Regions from separate parts of the Homo sapiens genome. Here region 2 is linked to region 1. The links come from fine-mapping of genetic effects on gene expression. A gene starts in region 1. The other region holds a variant in brackets. All regions are shown on one strand. Distances are between the middles of the regions.

What was found. PIP is the estimated chance that this variant, and not a neighbour inherited with it, causes the effect.
Region 2: its variant is the best candidate, but not a certain one, in a credible set for the expression of ZFR2 in nasal epithelium (TOPMed, PIP 0.83).

The regions. Positions count from the first base shown.
Region 1 is chr19:3,867,775-3,870,672 of GRCh38, reverse strand. It overlaps ZFR2 (zinc finger RNA binding protein 2), which reads left to right and starts at 1,635. Exons shown (of 19, transcript NM_015174.2): 1 at 1,635-1,708. The coding sequence starts at 1,656.
Region 2 is chr19:3,804,017-3,806,914 of GRCh38, reverse strand. ZFR2 (zinc finger RNA binding protein 2) reads left to right here. Exons shown (of 19, transcript NM_015174.2): 19 at 790-2,891. The coding sequence ends at 966. Among named protein-coding and RNA genes, the nearest start is that of MATK, 19 kb to the right of the region's middle. The variant A/G (reference allele first, on the strand shown) is at 1,120.

The DNA of each region.
Region 1 (2,898 bases):
TCTATCTCCTTAAGCGCAGTGTAGCTACACAAATTAGGAATTCTTCTGCATAAGAGATTTGTCTGTTTGCCTCCATTTATTTGTTTATTCATTCAATTCTTTCTCTCTCTCTCTCTCTCTCTCTTCTTTCCTTCCCTTCCCTCCCTCCCTGCTCCTCTCCCTCTCCTCTTTTATTATTTATTTATTTATTTTTTTATTTTTTATTTTTTTATTTTTTTGAGACGGTGTATTGCTCTGTTGCCCAGGCTGGAGTACAGTGGTGTGATCTCGGCTCGCTGCATCCTCCACCTCCTGGGTTAGGTAATTCTCCTGCCTCAGCCTCCCGAGTAGCTGGGATTACAGGTGTGCCCCACCACGCCTGGCTAATTTTTTTTTTTGTATTTTTAGTAGAGACAGGGTTTTGCCATGTTGGCTAGGCTGCTCTTGAACTCCTGACCTTGGGTGAGCTGCCCACCTCGCCTTCCCAAAGTGCTGGGATTACAGGCGTGAGCCACCACGCCCAGCCCTTTCTTTCTTTTCTCTTTTTTGAGACAGGGTCTCACTCTGGAGTGCAGTGGTACAGTCACAGATCACTGCAGCCTTGACAGCCCAGGCTCAAGTGATCCTCCCACCTTAGCCTCCTGAGTAGCTGGGACCACAGGCATGTACCACCATGACCAGCTAATTAAAAAAAAATTGTAGAAACAGGGTCTTGCTATGTTGCCCAGGCTAGTCTCAAAGTCCTAGGGCTCAAGATCCTCCTGCCTCCGCCTCTCAAAATGTTGGGATTACAGACGTGAGCCACTGTGCCCGGCCTATCATTTATTTATATCACGTTGTGAACACAGGAGGCAGAGACCATGGGGGCCTTCTGAAGAGTCATTCTGAGGCTAGATGCAGTGGCTCACGTCTGTAATCCCAGCACTTTTGGAGGCCAAGGCAAGATTATTTGAGGCCAGGAGTTCAACATCAGCCTGGGCAACATAGCAAGACACTGTCTCTACAAAAAATTTAAAAATTAGCTGGCTGTGGTGGTGGTGGGGCTTGAGCAGAGACCTCCACATCTGAGTGGTTAAAGAGAAGGTGGGGCTCGGAGACAGAGGTAGGGCTTGTGCAGAGACCATATCTGAGCAGGTAAAGGGAAGGCGGGGCTCCGAGAAAGAGGCGGGGCTTGTGGCATGGGTGGGGCTTGAGCAGAGACCTCCACACCTGAATGGTTAAAGGGAAGGTACGGTTCCAAAAAAAGGCGGGGCTTGTGGCATGGGTGGGGGTTGAGCAGAGATCACATCTGAGTGGGTAAAGGGAAGGCAGGGCTCTGAGTAAGAGGCGGGGCTTGTAGCATGGGCGGGACTTGATCAGATACCACCACATCTGAGTGGTTAAAGGGAATGTGGGGCTCCGAGAAAGAGGCAGGGCTTCTAGCATGGGCGGGGCTTGAGCAGAGACCTCCACATTTGAGTGGTTAAGAGGAGGGCGGGGCTCTGCGTAGGAGGCGGGGCCTCGGGGCAGGTGTGGTCGCGGGGCGGTGTCTCCCTAGCCTAAGAGAAGGAAGCGAGAAGGTGAGGGCTTCGCGCAGGGGGCGGAGCTTGGGGCGCGTGGCCAGGCGCGAGCGGCACGCGGCTCGGGGGCGGGGCGGGTGACGTCGCGGGTCCGCCAGGCTCGGGGAAGACGCCAAGATGGCGACGAGTCAGTATTTCGACTTCGCGCAGGGCGGCGGCCCGCAGTACAGGTAACTGCCCCGCCGCGCCAGCCCCCGCCAGTCCCGGCCCCTGCAGCCTGGCCGGGACCCCGCCTACCCCTTCTCCCGCCGCGTGCGCCCGGCCCGGCCCCAGTCCCAGCCCCAACCTGGAACCCCGGCCTGAGGGAAGCCGCGGCGCCGGGAGAAGCAGGCGGGGCGGCCTCAGGTTAGGCACCGGGCGGGATGCGGGCTCCGGGGCTCCGGCTGAGACGTCTCTGCAGCCAACGGTGTCTGTCGGCGGGAGCGGGAGGGGGCTCCTGAAGTGGGAGGGGGCCTGGGTTTGGGCCTGGGCCTGTGCGGGGTCGGGGGGGTCAGCCCCTGATGGGGGCGCCACGAGGAGGGCAGCGAGAGGGGACAGACCCGGGCGGGGGGTGGGTGGTCTGACCGAGGAGGGGAGGGGACGGAACTGACCCAATGCAGGGAGGAGACCTGGGAGGTGCCTGGCCGGGGAGTGGGTGGGGATGGGCAGAGGGGAGCTGACCCCTGATTGCTGGTAGGGGAAGAGAAGACACAGACCTAGGAGGGTGTCTGGCTGGGCAGGAGGAGGGGAAGGGCAGAGGGGCATTGACCCCCGATTGCGGGGGGAGGAGAAGACACAGACCTGGGAGGGTGCCTGGCCGGGCAGGGGGATGGACAGAGGGTAGCTGACCCCCGATTACTTGTAGGGGAGGAGAAAACAGAGATCAGCGAGGGTTCCTGGCTGGGCAGGAGGAAGCCACAGTCGAGGGGTGAGGAATTGGCCCCTGATGGGGGTAAGAGAGAAGACAGAAACCTGGGAGGGTGTCTGGCTGGACAGGGGGAGAGCTAGAGCGGAGCTGACCCCGATTGCTGGTAGGGGGAGAGAATTCAGACCTGGGAGGGTGTCTGGCTGGGCAGGAGGAGGGGAAGGGCAGAGGGGCGTTAATCCCCGATTGCTGGAGGAGGAGAAGGCAGAGACCTGGGAAGTTTCCCGACTGGGCAGGGGGCAGCAACATTCGAGTGTGGAGGGCACTGACCCCTGATGGTGGGGGTAGGAGAGAAGGCAGAGACCTGGGAGGGTACCTAGCAGGCAGGGGCAGAGACCTGGGGTGGGGTGTGGAGTAGGGGTGGGAACCTGACCCCTGATGTGGGGTGGAGGAGAGAAGACAGAGACCTGGGAGGTTACCCCAGGGAGGGGCGGAAACCGAGGTTGGTGGGGAACT
Region 2 (2,898 bases), 64 kb after region 1:
CCGTCCTCCCCCACACCACTGACCATGGTCCTAGAAGCCCAGCCGTGGCCGACAGCTCCGCCTGCCCAGCCCTCACCTGTGGTTACCTTGTTTGCAAATTTGTTTATAAGAAAAATCTCCTAGCAGCACCAAAACCAAACCGCATCGGGTCTGACGTTTCTGAATTTTGCCTTGAATGGGATCACTGGAATGGCTTGCAGTGCAGGATGTGGGGTCCCTCCAGTGAGGCGGAAAGAGCTGGTGGTCAGTGGAGCGGGGGGGCCTCCTGGGACAGTCCTTGTGGTCAGCCGGCACCACGCGAAAATTCCTCAGGCCCTGCAGTGACCCAAGCTCCGCAGTCGTAAGAAGCGGTGTCGGCCGGGCCGGGTGGCTCACGCCTGTCATCCCAGCACTTTGGGAAGCCGAGGCGGGCGGATCACAAGGTCAGGAGTTCGAGACCAGCCTGGCCAACATGGTGAAACCCTGTCTCTACTAAAAATACAAAATTAGCTGGGCGTGGTGGCACACGCCTGTAATCCCAGCTACTTGGGAGGCTGAGGCAGGAGAATCACTTGAACCTGGGAGGCGGTGGTTGCAATGAGCTGAGATCGCGCCACTGCACTCCAGCCTGGGTGACAGAGCGAGACTGTGTCTCAAAAAAGAAAGCGGCGGGGGGCCGGGGGCTATCTCGAGGGATACAGGATAGGCCTGGCCCATCTGCTGGTGGCCACAGACACCAGCCCCTCTGTGTCCCCAGCACTCGGGGAGCAGAGCGGGCGGGGGTCCTGACAGGCTGTGTGTGCCCCGCAGCACGCCCTGCGAATGCTGGCCTTCCGGCAGACCCACAAGGTCCTGGGCATGGATCTCCTGCCGCCCAGACACCGGCTGGGGGCCCGCTTCCGGAAGAGGCAACGGGGACCTGGCGAGGGAGAGGAGGGCGCAGGGGAGAAGAAGCGGGGCCGGCGGGGCGGAGAGGGGCTCGTGTGAGCCGCCTACCTCCCCCACCTGCGGGCCTTTGCATCCCTGCACTCCTGGACGTGTGCGCGCCGACCAATGGCTGCTTCATCCCCGACGTTGGACAATGGTCATTTCCTTTTGAGTAACGCTCTGTAGGTTTCCTTTAAAACACCTGTGCTTCAG[A/G]CCGGGCACTGTGGCTCATGCCTTTAATCCCAGCACTTTGGGAGGCTGAGTTGCTTGAGCCTGAGAGTTCAAGGCCAGCCCAGACAACAGAGTGAGACCCCCATCTCTCCAAAATATTTTTAAAAATCAGCTTGGCATGGTTGGTGGCCAGGCGCGGTGATTCACGCCTGTAATCCCAGCACTTTGAGAGGCCGAGGTGGGCAGATCGCCTGAGGTCAGGAGTTCGAGACCGGCCTGGTCAACATGGTGAAACCCTGTCTCTAGTAAAAAACACAACAATTAGCCTGGCGTGGTGGTGTGCACCTGTAGTCCCAGCTACTTGGGAGGCTGAGTCCGGAGCCTTGAGGCCAGGAGGGCAGTGAGCTGTGATTGCACCGTGACACTCCAGCCTGGGCAACAGAAGAAGACTTTGTCACTTAAAAGAAATGTTTTTTAACATTTGTGCTTAAATTGTTACAGAAATGACACCATCCAGCCCTGGGAGTGGCACCCCTTCCTCGAGGGCCCCATCCCCCACAGCCAGGGGGGCCAGCAGTACAGCAAGCAGATTCTAAACTCGGGGGCATCTTGCTGGCTCTAAACTCACCTCGTGGTACAGGAAGGGGTTTTAAAATACTTCCTCTGGGCTGCGCATGGTGGCTCACACCTATAATCCCAGCACTTTGGGAGGCCAAGCTTGGTGGATCGCTTGAGCCCAGCGGTTTAAGATCAGTCTGGGCAATATGGTGACACCCCATCTCTACAAAAAATTAGCCAGTTGTGGTGGCCCAAGCCTGTAGTCCCAGCTACTCGGGAGGCTGAGGCCGTAGGATCCCTTGAGCCCAGGAGTTCGAGGCTGCAGCGAGCCGAGATTGCGCTACTGAACTCCAGCCTGGGTTACAGAGCGAGACCCTGTCTCAAAGAAACAAACAAACAAACAAACAAACAAACAAAACTTTCTTTGGATGCGGCTGCGGCATGGATTTGAAATCACGTGGGCAGGCCCTGTTCTGGGGCCCCACCACATGTGCAGGACAAGCCCAGGGGAGCTCCCAGCCGGCATCCCCACGCCCCCAGCCCAGCCTGCTCCAAACAGACCCCCCACCCACCTCCACAGCCAGGATGTCAGCAGGGCCTGAGCCAGGCTCGTCCCCTGTGGGGAGAGCCACAGGGCCAGGTGGACACGCCGACGGGCGATGAGGATCCTGGCTGGGCCTCCCCCGGGAACAGCTGTGCTGGACAGTCAGACCCGGAGCCCAGAGGCACCCCCACCCACCCCCCGCCCCGAGCCCTGTACCACTGAGTGCCTTTCACAGAGAAAACCCACTCTGCCATGTGTCACTGAGGCCTGGATTTGAGCTTCCGTCCTTCCTTCCTCCCTCTCTCCCTGATGTAGGCCTTGGCTGGCCCTGAGGCAGGGGGTCCCCAATCCCCCCTTGTGGTAGCAGGGCCCGGGACCCGTGCCTGGGGGACCCGGGGAGGGGCCGCCGTCTTGTGGATGCTGGCCATGGTGGGCAGGCGCCTCCTGGCACTGATGGATGTGGGGGCACCCCCTTCTGAGTCCCCACCCCAACCTGTTCAAACCTTCCGCTTGGTCAGTTTTTTTTTCTTTGGCCAGCTGCCCAGTGGCATTGAATGAGAAAAGTCCACCTTTGGGCAGATGTGATCTCCAGCCAGTGGCTCAGTTTTGTTTCTCTGTGTTTGAAGGACAGCCTGCATGTGGCTCTGTCTGAATGTCTTTGTAGAGCTACCTGGAAATTGGGAGGCAGGGGGAATAAAGGAAATCATTTGTCTTTTGTG